Homo sapiens: one gene and its partner. The protein of the gene in region 2 interacts with the protein of the main gene of each other region in a biochemical or structural test. Each region holds a gene or a part of one and is shown on either strand. Other genes may lie near its edges.

Region 1 (3,387 bases), on a different chromosome or scaffold from region 2:
ACCTGACCCATGAGCAGTTGTAAAACAGGTGGATACCAACTACCTCGAAGCAAATTGGTGAAAGAAAAGGCAAAGGTATCTCTTAGAAGTAAATCTCCTTCAACGTTATATATGTACAGAAGAAAAAAAGTTGATCATAGCTTTTTGTCAAGTAGCATGTTTCCCATTCACAGGAAAATGTGAGCTTATCAGTTCTTTCTCTGTATTTTAAATCTAAGTCTGTGGGCTTTAAGAGCAATGGCACAATTGCATGTTTACTGTTCAGCAAATCTGTGCCTCTTGATAGAGAAAAATACTATGTGGTTTCTGTAAGTTACCAGTTTTGAATGAAAAATGGTAAATGGATTTACATCTGTTTTATTGTACCTTAGCCTTTTATTTTAAAGTTAAAGGGATGACTTTTAAAAGCAGGACATTCCCTACCTTTAATAGTGCAAAGCACAGTTTCAGCAATGGCTACATGACTATGTCTAAAAACTGAATACTCAGAATACTAAAGGTTTGGTGCTTAAATTTATTTTTCCCATGCCAGAGAAAGCAAGCTTTGGTATGGTAAACCACATGAGAACATGGCTCCTTTCTTTTTGGATAGCCTGGCCATGTGTGAATGGGATTTTAGCTTATTATGTTTCTAAGACTTTTCCTTACAGCACACTTAATGTACCTTTTCAGTCCTTCTCCCAACCCCCTGCAAATTGTCTTTAAAACAACAACACATAAGGAATCTGAAGCACAGGAGAACACAGAGCCAACAAACAGAATGAAGAACAATCATCTATTTTTAACTGACTTTCTATCATTACCATTTTTCCTTTTGCTTAATAACTATCTTGCTTTGAAACTTTGACTCCTTTTATAAGTTCTATGAGGCACATATGTATAGCAATTTGGTTCTAAAAACCAGTGATCTTACTTTAGCTCCATCTTAAAATTTCACCTTAAGTAAATGGCCTCTAGTAGATGATAAGCCTAAAAAAAGCACAATTATTAAAACAAACAGATCCATGTTAGGACATTTCTGAATAATAAAGAGAAAAGGTGTTTCGTTGGGTATTGCAGAAAAGAGGACCAATTTCATATAGTACAAGTTTCGTAAGTCAGGCCAAGTGTCAATTTCAAAAGACAAGAAATGAAATTGACAGTGAATAGTGCTCATAAATTGGTAGCGTATATAAAGAGAAGTTCCTGTCACATTATATTCCCACTAGAATTATTATCCACAGTAAATAAATATTATTTTGTTATGCCAAAAATATAGCGAGCAGCTTCATGGTTAATAATACATTTATGTTGACACCTCCCTAATCCAGGAAACATTCACAAACAAGGACTCCCATATACAAATACTTTAGGAAGAGAGATTTCCCAGGCAGATATCACCAAAAATGTTTTCACTGTAGGAATCACAAAATAAGTTTTTGTCAAAATAACTGTTGTTGAACGTTATACTGGTCTTCCTCACTGGTGATTGATAAGCTCCTTTCTAGCCAGTTTGTGGTACTTCCTTCATTTTCCCTAGAAATGTTACTTGTTAAATGTGTCCTCAGGCGGTTTCATCTTTGTTGATTCTGCCCATCTAAGTCATAAGCTTCTCAAATGCAAGCTACTAGCTAGTTACACTTGTAAGTTTTCCATAATGACATGATTTTAAACATAAAGAGTTCATAAGAATCACTTGGAGAGACTATTTAAAAATGAGATTCCTAGGCCCACCTCAGATTGTGATAAATCTGTGTGACTGACTGATGCACACTTTTTCTGGACTATAATAACTGATGCTGCTCTACTGCTTTAATACAGGCCAAAGTAACGTGGAAGCGCACAGCAGAAAATCTTCAGAAAGACATCAGGTTTGTTCTGATTTTGACAAGGGTAACTTCTTCTTTATTAAAGCAAATAACTGGACATAATCTTAAAGGATTCCACCTCCATCGTCTTTCCTAACTTAGATCTTCATTGAGAAATTGGGCAAGGTTAAGTTTACTTTTTTCTAGTGCTGCGGTTTTGGCTCGTCTTGGTAGTCTCATCTTCATTTCTGATTCTGGTTCTGGAACTTCATGATCACTAAATAGATGTTGAAAATACACGAATTTAGATACAAGCTTTAAAACCAGTTTATTTATAAATAAAACTTTTTTGTTTCTGACTCACATTCTATCAGTGTTTAATTGATAGCCTGATTCCATTGACTTAGCTTAAAACTAAAATCTCAATGTCAAAAAAACACTGACTTGGCTATCTAGCAAAGTGAATCAGGGAAAATCTAGCTAATGATTTTATATACTATAACAGAACCTGGTGTTATACAGGAAAAAAAGCCACAAACTTGTAATGAAGCTTGTAATTAAACGAGGACCATAACTGTCCAAAAGAGATTTCTTTGAAACTCAAGAAGTGACAAAAAAATTAAGTTCTCTCTCTTGATTTAAGCAATAAATTCCAAAAACATAGTAAAAAACAAGTTTCCCCCCAAAAAAGACAAATTTAATCAACAGTGTAAAACTATGTACTGAAAATACACACAATACAATTTTGCAAATGAATACAAGACAGCTACCAACTTTCAGCTCTAACAGTGGCTTGACTGACAGAAGCCAAAAATAAAACACTCTACCACACAATATACCCAAATTATAGACAGAATTATTCTATCAGTATGTAAGTGTAGAGAACCCAAATATTATCAAAATCAAGAGTTTGCTAACTGAAGATCAAAGAGGAGTCACATCATGTAATTAAAAATTGAAACAACATATTAAAGATAGTACTAAAGACCATGCCAGCTAATAGGCAAAAGCAAACACGCCGTAAGAAGTCAAATGCTCTTGATGATGGAATTTTAGACTATATACCTAAGACAGCTATTTATAGTTTTCACTATCTTGTTATATATTCTCTCTCATTCGCAAGAAAATTAGTTTTTTTCTACTTGTAGAAATAAAAAGTGAAGATAGGCCTCCATATATTCTAGACATGCATGACATACCTTTCAGAGTCGGCTTCAGCAGTCTGACACCTCCTGTTCGTCCTAGCTGAAACTGTCACTTTTCTCTGTCCTTGAAGATAGTATAATTCATTATCAGGATTTATTATCAGTTGCTTTTTGTTTTTAATCTAGTTTCTAGGCTAACTAAATCCTTTGTCTTCAACACAACAATCCTTTCAACACATGTATCTCCTACTTGTTCTAGCCATCTTGGTACCAGTTATCACTGCCACAGAAAAAGGAACCCAAGCAAGATTAAAACTTAATTTATTTTGTAAGCACTAATAATGAGTAAGGGAAAATAAGGAAATTTCAAGCAAGTTAAAAGAAGGCAAATTTTAGTTCAATGTATTTGAGGACAGTATATGAAAAATGTGTTATAATGAAGTACCTCTATTATT
Region 2 (3,500 bases):
ATCCTGCCTCTGCCACTTGCTACACAGGATGGCCTCAAGGCAGTAGCTAAATGATTTGTGGATTCACTGATTTTCAACCTTCTCTCCTGCTTTCCCCTGAAGTCACCTGACGGCTAATTAGCAGCTACTTTCTCCTTCCCACTCCCCAGGCCCAGAAGCTACCAAAGGAGCTCTGGTCGCAGGACCAACAGCAATTTTCCCCACAGGAAAAACGAATCAGCTAAGACAACCATGGAAAAGTTAGGAAACAGCCAGAGAGAGATTTTAAGGAAGATTCTAGAACCACCGCTTGCTCTTAATATAAAAGGACTGGAAGAGATTTGAGGAATACTCTGGTGCCAAGGCTTCTTCCTTTTTGGCCAATAACTTTTATTTCTTACTCTTGTATTGAAAGTTTTTTCCCCTCTACCTACTGCATTAAAAAAAAATTTTTTTTTTTCTAAGACAAGGTCTCACTCTGTCTCCCAGGCTGGAGTGCAGTGGTGCAATCACGCTCATAGCCTCAACCTCCCGGGCTCCAGTGGGCCTCCCACCTCAGCCTCCCTAATAGCTGGGATTACACATGTGTGCCACCACACCAGCTAATTTTTTTTTTTTGAGACGGAGTCTCACTCTGTCATCAGGCTGGAGTGCAGTGGCGTGATCTCAGCTCATCGCAACCTCTGCCTCCCGGGTTCAAGCTATTCTCCTGCCTCAGCCTCCCAAGTAGCTGGGACTACAGGCGCGTGCCACCACACCCAGCTAACTTTTGTATTTTTAGTAGAGACGGGGTTTCGCCATGTTGGCCAGGATGGTATGAATCTCTCGACCTTGAGATCCGCCCACCTCGGTCTCCCAAGGTGCTGGGATTACAGGCGTGAGCCACCATGCCCGGCCTAGGAGTTTCTTTTTAGCGTGATGAAAATGTTCTAAAATTGACTGTGGTGATGGCTGCACAACTCTGTCAACGTACTAAAGCCACTAAGTTGGACACTGATAAATGGATATGGATTATACAGTATCTCAATAAAGCCACTCAACCAACCAACCGACCAACCAACCAACCAGGGGGTGCTGGGAAGGGGTTGAGAGGCCTCCATGAGGCTGTGGAGGCGGATAGGCGTCAGGCTCAGAGCTGACTTTACCCCGAGGGCAACGGCTCGGGCAGAGTTTCTAAGGGCAGGCCCATGCCTTCCTTGGGGTGGCCGGTAATGCTGGTTGAGAACAGGCTGGGGAAGAGCCTAGAGCTGAAACGCTCTGGTTGGCGGTGCAGGCACAGGACATCAAGGCCTGGAGAGGGACTGAGGCATCAGGGCTGAGGGACTCTGAGAGCAGCGGACAGGCGTGTGTGGCGGGGGAGGAACGGCGCACACCTGTGCCCCATCCGCAGCCCCTCTTCTTGTCAACATCAGCTTCCCCGGGGAGAGGCAGTGATGTTGGTGGGGGAAGGAGGGAAGGGCCCAGGCCGGGCTGTGGTGGAGACGGTTGCTATGGAGGTTTCTCTGGGAACCAGGTGAAGGCAGCCAGAAGATGGGGGCAGGGTGGCTTTCATTATGAGAACTGGAAGCAAACACAGCCCCTTCCTGCCTCGGCGGACATCTCCACACCCACATTTCATGGCATTTCTCACGCGCTGGGCTGTTTCCAGGGCTTCACCTGTTCTCACTCACTTAACTTTCCCCCAGCAATGTGACGAAGCGAAACTATCATGGCTCCCATTTATAAATGAGCAAACTGAGAAAGGGGAGAGGACTTCAGTCACCTGCGTAAAGTCCCACAACCAGTAAGGGCTGGCCCAGGTGTCTGGCCCCACAGCTGAGCTCCTAACCGCACCGAGCCTCTCCAAAACATGGTCTTTTTTTGCTCCCCACTGCCACCACCATCACCGTCCCCTGCCTCATCCAGTCCCCCTTCCCATTCTCCAGAGACTTCCTGGGCCATCTCCATGACCTTCCAGACCAGCCTGGGCTTCACTCTCAAATCCAATTCAGGATGATCCGCCCGCCCCAGCTGCAGACGATGGCCTGAGACGCCTGCAGGGAAGAGAGGGGCGTCCGCTGCTCGCCAACCCCCATACGTTCCTGCTCTGTGGTAGGTCAGGAAGAAGAGGGCAAAGGAGTCTGCATCAAACTGGGCTAAGGCCTGGCGCTCTGATGGCCGCTGACCTCAAAACTCTCCATGGGGGGTACCCCTCTGCCCATTGAGGGGGCACCTAGGGAGCCTAGGGGTCCCGTGAGGCCCTCCCACCATGGTTCCCCGCCTCTGCCTCTCCCCGCAGCTCCGACCATGACCATCCATCCTATGAGTGCTGGCTGGGCTCAAGCCCGGGTACTTTCCTCCGTGCCCAAGCAACCCTGTAGGAACCACATATCCTGGGCCAGACGAATGCAGGAGCTGCCTCCTCTGGACACAGCGGTGGCTCTCACCTCCCTTCCATCTTGGCAGGATGAGTGCATTTGCTGCGAGAAAGCAGCCCCGACGGCAGGGCCCTAGGGCCCCAGGCCAGGCCACCACGACCACGAGGGACCAAGACAACAAGCCCACTCCTGAATCACGCCTCAACACAGACAACATGATGTCCAAACCACAGAAACGACCAAACACCCCTCCTGACTCAGAGCTGCTGGCTGTTTCTCAACTAACCCCGGCGGCACTAGCTCCCTTTGCTTCTCAGGCTCTAGGTCAAATAGATGCGAGTCATGGGCTTGCCCCTGACACAGCCCAACTCCTCAAGTTAGCCCAAACGCCTCCTTATTGAGGTGCCCTGCGAGTCCCTGTGGGGGACAGTCTTCCTGCCGCAATGAGCAATGTGCTCCTGGTGGCCTCTGGCTGGGGGCATGGGGATTAGGAAGAGAGTAATAAGACACCAGCCCCACTTCCAGCAGGCATCCTGAACCTCAGGAAGGATTCTTTAGGCCTCCTCCTCTGCTCCCCAGAAACACTGTCCTCCCCTCCTTCACATGGGACCGGGCTGTGTCGGAATGAAGCCCTACTCCGTCTCACTGCTTGTAAAGTCCAGCACAGAGGGGACCAGCCTCAATCCTCGGAGACTCTTGGAATGAGGGCTGGGTTCCTTTTGCTCTCTGCTGTGGACAGAGAGGATGACAGCTGTGGGGAGGGGAAGTCACAGAGGGCCAGCAGCCTGAGTCCTGTCCACACTGGTGGTTTGCTGGGGTTTTCCAGGTTTTTCTGAATTACTTGCCTACCTTTAAAACTTGGATCTCACAGAAAAAAAAAAAACTGGATTTCCAGCTTCTCCCGTGAAACCAGCAGCTTTGCACCACCAGCGCTGCCAGTGTTGCTGCGGCCCCGGTGCCTTTCAGGGGCCCAGGTGCTTCTGGGAGCCACCCCTCCCTCTGGGCCTGACACAGGGCCCAAGGTGGTCAGCAGTTCACCGGTCCAGGCCTCTTCCCATGTCAACCCCCTGCCCCTCCACACTGCCCCAAGGTAGTTCTATGATTGTGCCCATTTTACTGATGAGGTGACCACAGGTCGGGGGGTACAGTATCTTGTCCCAGACC

What was found.
Region 1: the proteins of NUP62 (region 2) and NCAPG form a complex in vitro, tested with the Homo sapiens proteins (one study listed by IntAct).

What each region holds. Positions count from the first base shown.
Region 1 is NC_000004.12:17,841,979-17,845,365, reverse strand, and holds the end of NCAPG (condensin complex subunit 3), read right to left. Parts: exon of another isoform or gene 3,057-3,387; coding exon 2,987-3,056; exon of another isoform or gene 2,065-2,986; coding exon 1,941-2,064; 3' UTR 501-1,940; downstream 1-500. UniProt on the Homo sapiens protein: Regulatory subunit of the condensin complex, a complex required for conversion of interphase chromatin into mitotic-like condense chromosomes.
Region 2 is NC_000019.10:49,919,505-49,923,004, forward strand, and holds part of NUP62 (nuclear pore glycoprotein p62), read right to left. Parts: intron 1-3,500. UniProt on the Homo sapiens protein: Essential component of the nuclear pore complex. The N-terminal is probably involved in nucleocytoplasmic transport.